2 separate regions of the Homo sapiens genome follow, and region 1 is linked to region 2. Evidence: fine-mapped expression QTL. Tissue or cell type: uterus. Region 2 holds a variant in brackets; the other region holds the start of a gene. All regions are shown on one strand. Distances are between the middles of the regions.

Region 1 (8,104 bases), 61 kb after region 2:
TGGGATGTTTTCTATTCTAGTCTCTTTTATTCTACTTCATTAAAAAATCATAGTCACTGCCCACCTAGTTATTTTCATGACCCATAATACGCAAAACTGTACCACAGACATTTTTACCCATTTGTATCCACTGCGTGGACCAAGTAGCACATATCTGCGGAGTGCTGAAAGCATTTCATATCACAAAGCAGCACGGATCACTTAACAATGACACAGGTCCACAAATTCTTCAAACTCCAAGGCCAGATGTGCTTTGAAATTCAACTTTTATTTTCAAAAGGTGATATGGCATATACATGGCATATTTCATTAAAATCCCAGTGCAGGGCTGGCCGCAGTGGCTCATGCCTGTAATCCCAGCACTTTGGGAGGCCAAGGCAGGCGGATCACGAGGTCAGGAGATCCAGACCATCCTGGCTAACGCGGTGAAACCCCGTCTCTACTAAAAATACAATAACAAAATTAGCCAGGCATGGTGGTGGGCGCCTGTAGTCCCAGTTACTCAGGAGGCTGAGGCGAGAGAATGGTGTGAACCCGGGAGGTGGAGCTTGCAGTGAGCCGAGATGGCGCCATGCACTCCAGCCTGGGCGACAGAGCGAGACTCCGTCTCAAAAACAAAAACAAAAACAAAACAAAACAAAGTCCCAGCGCAGTGTGGATCAGGCTGCATTTCATAATTGAACACTTTACCCTAGAGAAAAGTATCATCGTTCATTCTAGGTAGAATAATTTAAAGTTATATTTAAAAAATACCCTGTAGTAGTTCAGGTAAGGCACGGACACTAAATTTATGAAAAAAAATTTGTTGTTCTGAGTTGTCCAGATTTTTGAGACTACAAATATGGGAATATGGTAGACCTACAATAAATGCTAATTCTACTGAACAATGAGTTTTTCTACATGTCAGAGGTTAAGCCTCAACCTACGAGTATAACTCAGTTGACAGATATTTGGCCCATAATGTTTGTTGGCAGACAGAATGTTTTGAAAGAAAATTCAAGCATGGCTCACTAGTCTCAAACTTGAAAATTGGGAAATTTCACCTAAAAATTATGTTTCCAACTTCTGAAACATCCTAGGATTTGGCAACATTGGGTCTACATCCCACGAAGTTAGTTCACTGGTGCCCATTTAAAGCTCCCCCACCAGTGCTAGGCAAGTGGGGGATGCTTATAATCCCAGCACTTTGGGAGGCTGAAAGGTGTTCGAGACCAGCCTGGGCAACGTAACAAGACCTTGTTTCTAAAAAAAAAAAATTAAAAATGAGCAAGTTGTGGTGGCACGTGCCTGTAGTCCCAACTACTTGGGAGACTGAGGTAGGAGGATCGCTTGGGAGGCTGAGGTAGGAGGATCACTTGAGCCCAGGAGTTCAAGGCTGCAGTGAGCTATGATTGTGTCACTGTACTCCAGCCTGAATGACAGAGAAAGATCCTGCCTCCAAAAAAAAATTAAATTTGTTTTTTTTTTTTTTTTTGAGACGGAGTCTCGTTCTGTCGCCCAGGCTGGAGTGCAGTGGCGCGATCTCAGCTCGCTGCAAGCTCTGCCTCCCGGGCTCATGCCATTCTCCTGCCTCAGCCTCCTGAGTAGCTGGGACTACAAGCGCCTGCCACCACGCCCGGAGAATTTTTTGTATTTTTAGTAGAGACGGAGTTTCACCGTGTTAGCCAGGATGGTCTCGATCTCCTGACCTCGTGATCCACCCACCTCGGCCTTCCAAAGTGCTGGGATTACAGGCATGAGCCACCACACCCGGCCAAAAAAATTAAATTTAAGTTTAAAAAGCGGCTGGGTGCAGTGGCTCATGCCTGCCATCCCAGCACTTTGGGAGGCCAAGGCAGGCGGATCACCTGAAGTTTGGAGTCCAAGACCAGCCTGATCAACATGGTGAAACCCCCGTATCTACCAAAAATACAGAAATTAGCCAGGCATGGTGGTGCACGCCTGTAATTCCAGCTGCTTGGGAGGCTGAGGCAGGAGAATCGCTTCAACCGGGGAGGTGGAGGTTCCAGTGAGACCGAACTCCAGCCTGGGTGACAGAGCGAGACTCTGTCATCAAAAAAAAAACACAATTCTCCCCTTCAGATGAGGCAAGTGCTCCCCAAGGCCCCGCAGCCTCACCTGGACCAGTTCTCTTCTTTCCTGTATGTCATCTGCCTGGCCCTCACAGACAGCTGAGCTTGAGATCCCTGTCTGCAGTTACCAAATCACATTCTGCCCACATCTCATATACTCTCAGCTCTGGGAGGAAAGAAACGAGGGCCCAGAGGTGGAGCCCAAGGTCATCCAGCCCAGAGTGACTTAAGCCAAACAATTATCAGGCTGAGAGACCTTGGGCCCAAGAGTCTTGCCCTTCCTTCCAGACCATTTACCTTCTCTAAGCCTTAGTTTCCACATGTACCAAATGGAACAAATACAACAGATCTATGGTCCTTTAAATGCTCCAAAAACCAGAACTTGATTTATAAACTGACCGCAAAACTTCACCTGGATTGCCACAGGCCATGTAGGGTCTTAATGTTCTCATAAGTGTGAATATTCACACCTTGCCCCACAGAAACATTTTATGACCAAAAACTGGCCCAGATTCCTCGGGGTGTGGGGGGGTGCTGCCTAATTATAAAATATGCACCCTATTAGCTTTCTAAAATCTGAAAAATTCTGATTCCCGAGATTGCCTTGGTGCCAAGGGGACCTGCACTTATGTCTCAGTGCTGCTGCGGGGATCAGAAGAGGAAATGCAACTCCAGCAGGGCGCCTGGCACACAGAAAGCACTCAAATACTGTAAATGTTAAGTACTTCAACTTCCCGAAGAACTCCCATCCATCGTCCAGCAAGATTCTGCCTAAATTTGCCAACTTCAGGTAACTCATTCCCCTCCTTCCCCAACCAAAACCAAAATAAAACAGAACCACTCCTCTCAGGGCCATCAGGGAGGCCTGGAAACCCCTTTAGCAGTTTTCTTTTCTTTTCTTTTCTTTCTCAGCTCACTGCAACCTCTGCCTCCTGGGTTCAAGCAATCCTCCCACCTCGGCCTCCCAATTAGCTAGGAATACAGGGGCGCACCACCACGCCCGGCTAATTTTTCTATTTTTTTCTTCTTTTGTGGAGACAGGGCTTCACCATCTGGCCCAGGCTAGCCTCGAAATCCTGGGCTCAAGCGATCCGCCCACCTCAGCCTCCCAAGGTGGTTTTCTTCCTTTCTTTTTTTTTTTTTTTTTTTAAGATGTAGTCTCGCTCTGTCACCCAGGCTGGAGTGCAATGGCGCGATCTCGGCTCACTGCAACCTCCAGCTCCTGGGTTCAAGCGATTCTCCTGCCTCAGCCTCCTGAGTAGCTGGGATTACAGGCCCCCGCCACCACGCTCAACTAATTTTTGTATTTTTAGTAGAGACTGGGGGTTCGAGGAACTCCTGGCTGTAAGTGATCCCCCCCGCCAAGGCTTCCCAAAGTGCTGGGATTACAGGCGTGATCTACCGTGCCCAGACCTTGAGCGGTTTTCATAACAGACTGTGAAAGACGGTTCACACCTTCACCCTGACAACCGCCGCCCAAGGCGACGCACCCTTTGCCGAAGTCGCCCCCACTTGCATTCCGTCACCTCTCAGGAAGGACCGAGCCCGCAAGTCCCTCAGCCCCAGCGTCTCCGTACCTCGGGATTGTAGTCGGCCGCGTCAACAGACGCAACCCCAGCCTCAAGGGAGCGGGAGATTCAACTCCCCGCACACGCGCCTCCTCGCAGCGACTTCCTGTGCGCGAGAAGCTTCTCTGAGCGGCTGCACCCAGGATCCTCCGCGGCAGCGCCAGGACTCTATTTCCCAGAGGGCTGTGCGGGCGACTTCTTTCGCCTTCCCATCTCCTCCTGCTTCTTCAGCCTTAGCACTGTGGGAGTAGAGTAGAAAGAGAATCAGGACCAGGCGGCATCAGTTTGTAGTCCAGATTTTTACCTTGTTAAAGAATCATCTAATTAGCTTCTTGCCTTTACTAGAAGTCAGGGAGTGTTAACCTTTTCCGAAGAGCAAGCGGTAGGTTGCCATGGAAACGCGTTGTGACGGGTTTCTGAGAAAACAAGCGGAAGTAAGGGGCGGAGTTGAGGCAGAAGTTTAGGTAATGTGACCTCTGATTGGTGGAGAGGTACCTCACGGTGCATTCCGATTGGTCTGACACTGACACATGCGCAGTAGAACCAGAAGGCGTTCCAAAGCGGCTAGAACGGAGGGGAGGGGGATGAGCAATGAGGGAATAATCCCCATTCCGTCTGGAATCAGAGGGCGGGCCTGCCGCGGAGGCATCTGGGAAACGGAGTTCCCAGGCAGGCGAAGCCCAGGGGCCGTCAGGAAGTCAGCGGCGCCTGCGCGGGCGCCTCAGATTCAGGATGCGCGCGCAGCGCTCTCCGCCCAGCGGAAGTTTTCGCTGGGCAACTGAGAAGGTGAGTCCGGGTAACTGCGGAGGATCCGAGGGTCAGGCTGCAGAAGCCCAGAATCCCACCCCAGTCCCCAAGTACAGAGGTGAGGGGAAGCGAGGCGAACGAGGGGACGTCCCCCGACCCCCTAGCCGCAGCTCGGCCGGGGCGTCCGTGACGTCAGCACGACCGTTTGTGGGAGGCGGAGGCCCCTGCTGTCGGGGTTCGGAATGAGAGCGGCTCCGGGTCGCGGGGTTCACTGGCCTCCTCTTGAGCTTCCCAAGCCACCTTGGGCTCCGTGTTGGGCATGGCTAAGGCGGAGATGGGCGGAACTTGTGGGAAGTTCGACAGCTCCTCCGCTGTGAAACTTGGCGTCTAAGTCATCCCGTGGTTTCTATGGAGGTGCGGCCGAAGGGAGGCTCTGTCGTCGCCTAGGCAATCGCCCCACCTGCGCTGAGGTGGGGTCTGACTTTTAGCCTTTTTGCTGTGCTGTTTCCTGAACTTTCTAGGAGGAACACTATACAGTAGTTGACGCATAGCAGCTGTTCCCTAAACATTTGTTGAATAAGTCAAATAAATTAAGATAAAGACTGGCCTGAGGGTTGGAGTCTTAGGGTTTCAAGTCCTGACCTGGCCATTGCATAGGTGACTTCAGCACATCCAATTTTATTGAGCGTTTACTATATGGAAGGCTCCGTGCAACCGATATTACACTACTATAACCTGGGTTTGAACGGTGCTAGTCTAATAGGCACTGTTCAAGCCCAGGTTATTATAGCAGTGTCTAAAACAAAAATCCTGCCCAGCTAATTCACATTCTCAGGGTGGTTGGGGATGCCAGACACTAAAAAAGAAATGTTAAAGAATATTTACAGGTCTGCAGTCCCTTATCTATAACTTTAAAATCCAAAACGTTCTGAAAACTGAAAGGTCTTTTTCTCTGTTTTGCAACTTACTTGGCAGGCCAACCTCACCTGGCTTTGAACTTGTTTGCTGGCAATACCCACTCTGAACTGATGTGTGACTATTTAGAATTTTTAAAGATTTTGTTGTGCAAATCATATACTTATGGAGAGTTGCCCCTGGATCTCGCCGGTGTTGTAATATGTAATAGGTTCTAAAATCCAAAAAATTTGGCTGGGCACGGTGGCTCCCGCCTGTAGTCCCAGCACTTTAGGAGACCGAGGTGGGCGGATCACCTGGGTTCAGGAGTTCGAGACCAGCCTGGCCAACATGGTGAAACCCCATCTCTACTAAAAATAAAAAAATTAGCCGGGCATGGTGGCATGCGCCTGTAATCCCAGCTACTCGGGAGGTTGAGGCAGGGAGAATCGCTTGAACCCAGGAAGCGGAGGTTGCAAGTGAGCTGAGGTCGTGCCACTGCTCTCCAACCTGGGTGACATAGCAAAACTCTGTCCATCATGCAATACATGGCAGAAGCAAGATCCAAACCCAGGCAGATTATTTCCCAAGTTTATCCTCTTAACCCCTGTACTGATCTGCTTCTAAGTGGCACGTCTTTTTTAGGGACCATCCAGCTAGATAATTCCGGCCCTGAGCTTTGAGTCTCTGGCTGGATGTCTAGATTTGCCTGAGAGATGAATGTGTACTGACACAGCTGGGGACCCCCCCCACCCACCTTCTTGGCACATTTTCTTTTGCAAAGGAGACAATGATTTATTCACTCAGCAGACGTAGACCCAGCATTTGCTCTGTGCCAGGCCTGTTTGAGGCTCTGGGCACACTGTGGCAAACAAGGCAGGGAAAAGTCCCCGCCATCATGAAGCTTACATTCTAGTAAGTCAGAGTATGTCAGGTAGTGACAAGCACTGTGAAGAAAAATAAAGCAAGGTAAGGAGGATAAAACATGCTATTAGTAAAATGGTGTCCAGGGCCAGGCACGGTGGCTCGAGCCTGTAATCCCAGGACTTTGGGAGGCTGAGGGGGATCACCTGAGGTCAGGAGTTTAAGACCAGCCTGGCCAACATGGTGAAACCCCATCTCTACTAAAAATATAAAATTAGCCAGGCGTGGTGACACGCATCTGTAATCCCAACTACATGGGAGGCTGAGGCAGGAGAATCACTTGAACTCGGGAGGCAGAGTTTGCAGTAAGCCGAGATCGTGCCATTGCACTCCAGCCTGGGCGAAAAGAGCCAAACTCCATCTCAAAAAAAAGAAAAGAAAAAACACAGTAAAATCGTGTCCAAGAAGGTCTCTGAGAAGGTGACATTTGAACAGAGAGCTAAAGAATGTGATGAGGAAGTTAACTGTGTGCACTCTTAGGGGGACAGCGTTCCAGGCAGATGGGAGAGCAGGTGCAAAGGTCTTGGGGAAGAAACGTTCTTGTCACGATTGGGGAAAAGCACCGAAGCTGTTGTGGCTGACTCAGCGTGAGCAAGGGGAGAGGTGGGAGAGGTCAGAGAGGGAACAGGGAAGTGGCAGATCATACAGGGGGCTCCTGGGCCATGGTAGGAATTTCAGCATTTATTCTGTCTAAAATGAAATCCACCATACGGTTTTGAGTAGAGGAGGGACAGGGTCTGACTTACATTTTATTTATTTATTTGTTTATTTATGAGACTGAGTCTTGCTCTGTTGCCCAGGCTGGAGTGCAGCGGTGCAATCTTGGCTCATTGCAACCTCTGCCTCCCAGGTTCAAGCGACTCTTGCGCCTCAGCCTCCCAAGTAGCTGGGATTACGGGTGCCCACCACCACGCCCGGCTGATTTTTTTTTTTGTACTTTTTTAGTAGAGACGGGGTTTCACCATGTTGTCCAGGCTGGTCTGGAACTCCTAACCTCACGTGATCCGCCCACCTCGGCCTCCCAAAGTGCTGGGATCACAGGCGTGAGCCACCGTGTCCGACCCACCATATGGGCCAGGGCAGGGACACAGACAGGGTCTGACTTAGATTTTAAGTGGATCCGTCAAGCTACTGGGTTGAAAATAGATTGTAGGGACAAGCGTAGAAGCCGAAAGTCTAGTTAGGAGGCTGCTGCAGTAGCACAAGGGAGAGATGGTGGCCTAGACCAGGCTGGTGACGGTGTCAGAACCGGGGGTGGCACATGGTTAAAAGACTCTCTTGCCGTGGTTCCACACCCAACATCAGCTTCCAGATTTAAATCTACAAGAATGTTCTGACCTGCTGCCCCAAGAACCCAGTCCGGTTTTGCGTTTTCGTTGTATAAATTGGCACCAGGTGAAGAACATGGGCTTTTGGGTTCTGGATTTCAGCTGCGTCCCCACTGTTTTCTAGGTGAGTGGAGTCAGGTCTGGGGGAAGGAGAATTGTCACCCTTTGAGCATCATTTTGTAGGTTTCAAAGATGGGATAATCATCCCTACCTCATAGAGTGGAGGGAAAGATTAAACAAAATCATGTGTCTGGCTCGCCGCTTAAGAGGTTTGTGGCCCTGGGCAAGTCATTTGCTCTCTGAGCCTCTGCTTCTCATCTCCCCAAAGGGGAAATCATTCTTACCTTGAAAAGGGTGATTGGGAAGGTTCTGTAGATAATACCTGCCGAGAACTTAGCACAGTGGTCTGCACATACTGAACTGTCATGAAATGAGAACCGTCTTAAGTGAGTGACTTGACCTCTCTGTGCAGCAGGGACTCCCTGTCCCGGTTACTATGTCTAGAGAACAAATCGTCCCACAATTCACTGGTGTAGAACCACCATTTCTTGTGCCCATGGATCCTATGGGC
Region 2 (8,104 bases):
TACTATGCCTTTTCCTTATTGTCAGATACTGAACTCTCAGATACAGTTCCCCTTCCTCCCTCCAGGGGGCGCCATGGAACGCAGGGCCCTCTCTGTCCCTGGGGACTGGGTGATGTCAGGGGTGAGCCTCTCGTGATTGGCTACATCGCTCCCCAGAAGGTCAAATGGAAAAATTGAGAGCACTTTTCCACCAGCTTCGGTGGCTCCGTCAGGTTGTCCTGGCGCACAAGCTGGCGATGCTATGTGTTTGAAGCTAACCTGGACAAAATTGAAAAAAATTGTTTTTTCATTGTTCCGTCATAAAGGGAGGTCTCGACAGGAAGAAATTGCGTTTCCAATAGAATTGTTTTTAAATTACTGCAATATATCTTTTGAGATGGAGTCTTGCTCTGTTGCCTAGGGTGGAGTGCAGTCTTATGATCTCGACCTCTGCCTTCTGGGTTGAAGAGAGTCTCCTCTCTCACCCTGAGGTTACAGGCGCACACTACCACACTTGGCTAATTTTTGTATTTTTGGCTTCTTTTTGAGATGGAGTCTTGCTCCGTCGCTGAGGCTCAAGGGCAGTGGTGCGATCTTGGCTGACTGCAACCTCTGCCTTCCGGGTTCAAGTGATTCATCTGCCTCAGCCTCCCGAGTAGCTGGGACTACAGGCACGTGCCACCACGCCTAGCTAATTCTTTGTATTTTTAGTAGAGAAAGGGTTTCACTGTGTTAGGATGGTCTCTATCTCCTGACCTTGTGATCTGCCCGCCTCAGCCTCCCAAAGTGGTGGGATTACAGGTGTGAGCCACCGCTACCTGGCCTTTTTTTAAATTTAATTATTTATTTATTTATTTATTTTTATTTTGAGGTGGAGTCTTACTCTGTTGCCCAGGCTGGAGTGCAGTGGCGCAATTTTGGCTCACTGCAACCCCCGCCTCCCAGGTTCAAGCAATTCCTTTGCCTCAGCGACCCAGTAGCTGGGATTACAGGCGCGTGCCACCATGTCTGGCAATTTTGTGTATTTTTAATAGAGACGAGGTTTCCCCATTTTGGCCAGGCTGGTCTTCAACTCCTGACCTCAGGTGATCCGCCCGCCTCCGCTTTCCAGACTGCTGGGCTTACAGGCGTGAACCACTGCGCCAGCCTCTTTATCCCTTCTATACTGCATACCCCAAGTTGCAAACTGTTATTAGAGTGAATACCTAGGGGCAACTTGGATCCTTATAATGGACACCTGATATTTTTGCCTGAGTGACATCTGTTATCTCTGATTTTCTTCTTCATTAATAATTTTTTTTGGAGCAGTCTTAGGTTTACAGGAAAAAATCGAATGAAAAGTACCGAGAGTTTCTACATCCCCTTTCATCCCTTCATTGCCCCTCATCTTCCCTGTTAACATCTTGTGTTACTGTGCTACGTTTGTTACAATTAATAAGCCAATATTGATACATTATTATTAGCTGAAATCTGCAGTTTACATTAAGGTCCACTCCTTGTGTGATACCTTGTACATTCTATTTTTTTTTTTAATAAAGCATTTTTTTGGTGTTGTTTTTTTTTTTTTTTTTTTGAGATGGAGTCTTCCTGTGTCACCCAGGCTGGAGTGCAGTGGCGTGATCTCAGCTCACCGCAAGCTCCACCTCCTGGGTTCACACCATTCTCCTGCCTCAGCCTCCTGAGTAGCTGGGACTACAGGTGCCCGCAATCACGCCCGGCTAATTGTTTGTATTTTTAGTAGAGACGGGGTTTCACCGTGTTATCCAAGATGGTCTCGATCTCCTGACCTCATGATCTGCCCACCTTGGCCTCCCAAAGTGCTGGAATTACAGGCATGAGCCACCGCGCCAGGCCTTTTTTTTTTTTTTTTTTTTTTTTTTTCAGTTTTAAAATCACAGCAAAATTGAGAGGAAAGTCCATAGTTTACATTCAGTTTCTCTCTTAGTGTTTTATTGTCTATGGGTTTGAACAAATTTATAATGACATGTGTCCACCATTATAGTATTATGCAGAGTAGTTTCACTGTCCTAAAACTCCTCTGGGCTCTGCTGATTCATCCTTCCCTCCTCCCAAACCCCTAAAAACCAATGATTTTTTTTAACTGTCTCTATAGTGTTTCCTTTTCCAGAATGTGGTATAGTTGGAATCATACCATATGTAGCGATTTCGTATTGGCTTCTTTCACTTAACAATATGCATTTTAGGTTCCTCCATATCTTTTCATGGCTTATTATAACTGAGTAATATTCCATTGTATGCATGTACTGCAGTTTGTTCATCTACTGAAGGACATCTTGGTTGCTTCCAAGTTTTGGCAATTATGTACAGAGCCGCTATGAATATTTGTCTTCAGGTTTTTGTGGGGATATAAGTTTTGAGCTCATTTGAGTAAATACCAAGGAACATGAGTGCTGCAATATATGGTAAGAGTGTTTAGTTTTGTAAGGAAGTGCCAAATTGTCTTCTAAAGTGGCTGCACCATTTTGCATTACTGCCAGAGATGAATAAGAGTTCCTGACGTTCCTCATCCTCATCAGCACTTGGTGTTATTCATGTTTTGGATTTTCACCATTCTAATAGGTGGTTGTCGTATGTCATCATTGCTTTAATTTGCAATTTCCTAATGACATTTGATGTTGAGCCCCCTTTTTTTTTGGAGACAGAGTCTTGCTCTGTCGCCGAGGCTGAAGTGCAATGGCATGATCTCGGCTCACTGCAACATCTGCCTCCCAGGTTCAAGTGATTCTCCTGTCTCAGCCTCCCAAGTAGCTGGGATTACAGGCATGCACCACCACGCCTGGCTAATTTTGTATTTTTAGTAGACATGGGGTTTCTCCATGTTGATCAGGCTGGTCTCGAATGCCTGACCTCAGGTGATCTGCCCACCTTGGCCTCCCAAAGTGCTGGGATTACAGGTGTGAGCCACCACGCCCGGCCCAAGTACCTTTTATTTATTTGTTTGTTTGTTTATTTATTTATTTTAAGAAACAGGGTCTCTGTTGCCCAGGCTGGAGTACAGCAGTGCAATCATAGCTCACTGCCGCCTCCAACTCTTAGATCCTCCTTCTCGGCCTCCCCAGTAGCTGGGACTACAGTTGTGTGCTGTCACACCTGGCTATTTTTTTATTTCTATTTTTATTATTTTATTTATTTATTTATTTAGAAACAGGGTCTCGCTCTGTCATCCAGGCTGGAATGCAGTGGCACGATCTCTGCTGACTGCAACCTCTGCCTCCTAGACTCAAGTGATCCTCCGACCTCACCCTTCCAAGTAGCTGAGACCACAGGTGTGCACCACCACATCTGGCTAATTTTTTGTATTTTTCGTAGAGATGGGGTTTCACCACGTTGCCTGGGCTGGTCTTGACCTCCTGAGCTCAAGGGAATTACCAGCTGTGGCCTCCCAAAGTGCTGGGATTGCAGGTGTGAGCCACAACATCTGACCTTTTTCTTTTTATTTTTTATAGAGATGGCGTCTCAATGTGTTGCCTAGGTTGGTCTGAAACTCTTGGCCTCAAATGATCCTCCTGCCCCAGCCTCCCAAAGTGTTGGGATTACAGGCAGGAGCCACCCCACCACACCTTTTTATTTACTTATTTGCCATCTGCATATCTTCTTTGTTGAAGTGTCTGTTCAGATCTGTTGCCTATTTTTAAATTGGGTTGTTTGTTTTCTTTTTTCTTTTTTTTTTTAATTGATCATTCTTGGGTGTTTCTCGCAGAGGGGGATTTGGCAGGGTCATAGGACAATAGTGGAGGGAAGGTCAGCAGATAAACAAGTGCACAAAGGTCTCTGGTTTTCTTAGGCAGAGGACCCTGCGGCCTTCCGCAGTGTTTGTGTCCCTGGGTACTTGAGATTAGGGAGTGGTGATGACTCTTAACGAGCATGCTGCCTTCAAGCATCTGTTTAACAAAGCACATCTTGCACTGCCCTTAATCCATTTAACCCTGAGTGGACACAGCACATGTTTCAGGGAGCACAGGGTTGGGGGTAAGGTCACAGATCAACAGGATCCCAAGGCAGAAGAATTTTTCTTAGTACAGAACAAAATGAAAAGTCTCCCATGTCTACTTCTTTCTACACAGACACGGCAACCATCCGATTTCTCAATCTTTTCCCCACTTTTCCCCCCTTTCTATTCCACAAAACCGCCATTGTCATCATGGCCTGTTCTCAATGAGCTGTTGGGTACAACTCCCAGACGGGGTGGTGGCCGGGCAGAGGGGCTCCTCACTTCCCAGTAGGGGCGGCCGGGCAGAGGGGCTCCTCACTTCCCAGTA[A/G]GGGCGGTCGGGCAGAGGTGCCCCTCACCTCCCAGACGGGGCGGCTGGCCGGGAGGGGGGCTGACCCCCCCACCTCCCTCCCGGACGGGGCTGCTGGCCTGGCGGGGGCTGACCCCCACCTCCCTCCCGGATGGGGTGGCTGCCGGGCGGAGACTCTCCTCACTTCCCAGACGGGGTGGCTACCGGGCGGAGGGGCTCCTCACTTCTCAGACGGGGCGGTTGCCAGGCGGAGGGTCTCCTCACTTCTCAGACGGGGCGGCCGGGCAGAGACGCTCCTCACCTCCCAGACGGGGTCGCGGCCGGGTAGAGGCGCTCCTCACATACCAGACGGGGCGGCGGGGCAGAGGCGCTCCCCACATCTCAGACGGTGGGCGGCCAGGCAGAGACGCTCCTCACTTCCTAGATGGGATGGCGGCCGGGAAGAGGTGCTCCTCACTTCCTAGATGGGATGGCAGCCGGGAAGAGGCGCTCCTCACTTTCCAGACTGGGCAGCCAGGCAGAGGGGCTCCTCACGTCCCAGACGATGGGCGGCCAGGCAGAGATGCTCCTCACTTCCCCGACGGGGTGGTGGCCGGGCAGAGGCTGCAATCTTGGCACTTTGGGAAGCCAAGGCAGGCGGCTGGGAGATGGAGGTTGTAGCGAGCCGAGATCACGCCACTGCACTCCAGCCTGGGCGCCATTGAGCACTGAGTGAACCAGACTCCGTCTGCAATCCCGGCACCTCGGGAGGCCGAGGCTGGCGGATCACTCGCGGTTAGGAGCTGGAGACCGGCCTGGCCAACACAGCGAAATCCCGTCTCCACCAAAAAAATACGAAAACCAGTCAGGCGTGGCGGCGTGTGCCTGCAATGGCAGGCACTTGGCAGGCTGAGGCAGGAGAATCAGGCAGGGAGGTTGCGTGAGCCGAGATGGCAGCAGTACAGTCCAGCTTCGGCTCGGCATCAGAGGGAGACCGTGGAAAGAGAGGGAGAGGGAGACTGTGGAAAGAGAGGGAGAGGGAGACCGTGGGGAGATGGGAGAGGGAGAGGGAGAGGGAGAGGGAGATGGAGAGGGAGCGGGTTGTTTGTTTTCTTATTGTTAAGTTTTAGTTCTTTGTATACCAGCTTTCTTTTCTCTTTTTCTTTTTCTTTCTTTCTTTTCTTTTTTTTCAGACAAGGTCTTGCTCTGTTGCCCAGGCTGGAGTGCAATGGCGCAATCTTAGCTCACTGCCACCTCCGCCTCCCAGGTTCAAGTGATTCTCTTGCTTCAGCCTCCCGAGTAGCTGGGATTACAGGCACCCACCACCATGCCAGGCTAATTTTTGTATTTTTAGTAGAGACAGGGTTTTGCCACGTTGGCCAGGCTGCTCTCAAACTCCTGACCTCAGGTGATCCGCCCACCTCAGCCTCTCAAAATGCTGGGATTACAGATGTGAGCCACCACACCTGGCCTGGATACCAGCTTTTTGTCTGATAGGTGTTTTGAAAAGATTTTCTCACAATCTATAGCTTCTCTTTTTATTCTCTTAAACATCTGATTTTCCTATCACTCCTCTCCATGCAAAATATACATTTTTTGACTGGATCTTGCCAGGGATCTCAGAGTGAGAACAAGAGTCAGACCTGGCCAACCTGAGTACTTCATGACCTTGGTTATGATGTGCAGTAGTTTGGATGTATGTCCCATCCAATTTTTTTTTTTTTTTTTTGAGACAGAGTTTTGCTTTGTCACCCAGGCTGGAGTGCAGTTGCACAATCTTGGCTCAGTGCAACCTCCACCTCCTGGGTTCAAGTGACCCTTCTGCCTCCGCCTCCTGAGTAGCTGGGATTATAGGCACATGCCACGCCCGGCTAATTTTTGTATTTTTAGGAGAGACGGGGTTTCCCCGTGTTGGCCAGGCTGCCTTCTAAATTTCGTTCTTGAAATTGGATCCCCAATGTTGGAGATGGGGTCCTAATGAGAGGTGTTTGGGTCACAGGGGTGGACCCCTCACAAATAGATTAATGCCCTCCCTGGGAGTGTGGGTGAGTGAGTTCTTCCTCCATTAGTTCCCATTAGAGTTGGTTGTTAAAGAGAGGCTGACACTTGCCTCTCTTGCTTCCTCTATTGTCACATGATCCCTGCTTTCTTTCTCCTTCCACCAAGAGTGGAAGTAGCTCTAGACTTTCTCTGTATGCCCAATCTTCCAGCCAGCAGAATCATAAGCCAAATACACCTTTTTCTCTTTATAAATTACCCAGCCTCGTGGATCACTTTAGGTCAGGAGTTCGAGACCAGCCTGGCTAACATGGTGAAACCCTGTCTCTACTAAAAATACAAAAAATTAGCCAGGTGTGGTGGCGGGCACCTGTCATACCAGCTACACTGGAGGCAGGAGAATCACTTGTACCTGGGAGGCGGACATTGTAGTGAGCCAAGATTGCGCCACTGCACTCCAGCCTAGGTGACAGAGCAAGATCCTGTCTCAAAAAAAAAATAATAAAATAAAATAAAAATTACCCAGCGTCAGGTTTTCCTTTATAGCAAGACAACATGGACTAAGACACATGGTTACTATAGAAATGGACATGTGACCCAAGTTGGGCCAATGAGAGCTAACCTTGAGACTTTGGTATCACCATTCAGGAAGGCAGTACCCCTTTTCTGCTAGGTTGTTAAAATGATAAGCTAGGTTGTTAAAATGATAGTATGGAAGCTTCGAGCTGCTGTGGGCCCTGTTTGTCACCGTGAGGGAAGAGATTCTGCCTGAGAGGGAAGTCAAGATACAGAAAAGTAAAGCCCAGATGGGAAATGAGCGGTATTGCTAAAGATTCATTTTAGTGCCTGGATCCAGTTATGCCTGAAGCTAGTTATATAGCTCGGTTCTATAAGTCAACAAATTCCCTTTGTCAAAAACAAAAAAAGCCAGAGTACTTTCCAGAGAGCAAGGCTTATTATAATAATAATTAAAGCAGCATACTCTTGCAAGGAAAAACAAATAGACCAAAAGAACAAGACGGAAAAATCAGGAAAAGTTCACACATATACGGTAACTTGGTTTATGACAAAAGCAACATTTCAGTGCAGTGAGAAGCAAAAGATGATCTTTTTGGATAAATAGGGCTGAGCCAGTTGATAACCATATGACCTCTACCTCACACCATACACAAAAATTGATTCCAGATGTGTTGTAGATCTAAATGTTAAAGCTTAAACAATAAAACTTCTAGAAGAAAATATCATAGAGTATCTTCAGAACCTTCAGGGTAAGAAAATATTTCTTTTATTTACTTGTTTGTGTTAATAGAGATAGGGTCTCGCTATGTTGCCCAGGCTGGTCTCGAACTCCTAGGCTCATATGATCCTCCCTCCTCAGCCTCCCAAAGTGCTGAGATTACAGGCATGAGCCAGTGTGCCTGGCCAGAAAATATTTCTTAAACCAGAAACAAAGGAGCCTTAACTATAAAGGAAAATGTTGATAAATTGGACTATATTAAAATAGAAACTGATCCTCATCAAAAAATACCATTAAGAGAATGAAAAGACAAGCCAGAGAGTGGGAGAAGAATATGTATTCTAACAAAAGACTCATAAGAAAAATAAAGAAATAACTCCTACTAACCTGTTTTTTAAAAAAGGCAGAAAAACCAGTCGAAAAATGGACGAATGGCGTGAATTGACATTTCACAAAGTAGCATGTTCATATGCCCAATAAATATTTGAAACAGTGTTAAATTTCTTTCTTATTTTTTTTTTGAGACGGAGTCTCGCTCTGTCTCCCAGGCTGGAGTGCAGTGGCGTGATCTTGGCTCACTGCAAGCTCCGCCTTCTGGGTTCACGCCATTCTCCTGCCTCAGCCTCCTGAGTAGCTGGGACTACAGGCACCC

Evidence for each region. PIP is the estimated chance that this variant, and not a neighbour inherited with it, causes the effect.
Region 1: it holds the start of ZNF473, and the variant in region 2 is fine-mapped to the expression of ZNF473 in uterus (GTEx, PIP 0.97).

Annotation. Positions count from the first base shown.
Region 1 is chr19:50,021,668-50,029,771 of GRCh38, reverse strand. It overlaps ZNF473 (zinc finger protein 473), which reads right to left and starts at 3,767. Exons shown (of 5, transcript NM_015428.4): 1 at 3,650-3,767. It overlaps VRK3 (VRK serine/threonine kinase 3), which reads left to right and starts at 4,400. Exons shown (of 15, transcript NM_016440.4): 1 at 4,400-4,505. RefSeq lists enhancers at 3,614-3,663, 4,074-4,123, 4,464-4,543, 4,593-5,094.
Region 2 is chr19:50,082,896-50,090,999 of GRCh38, reverse strand. No RefSeq gene overlaps it. Among named protein-coding and RNA genes, the nearest start is that of SNAR-A4, 5.7 kb to the left of the region's middle. The variant A/G (reference allele first, on the strand shown) is at 4,260.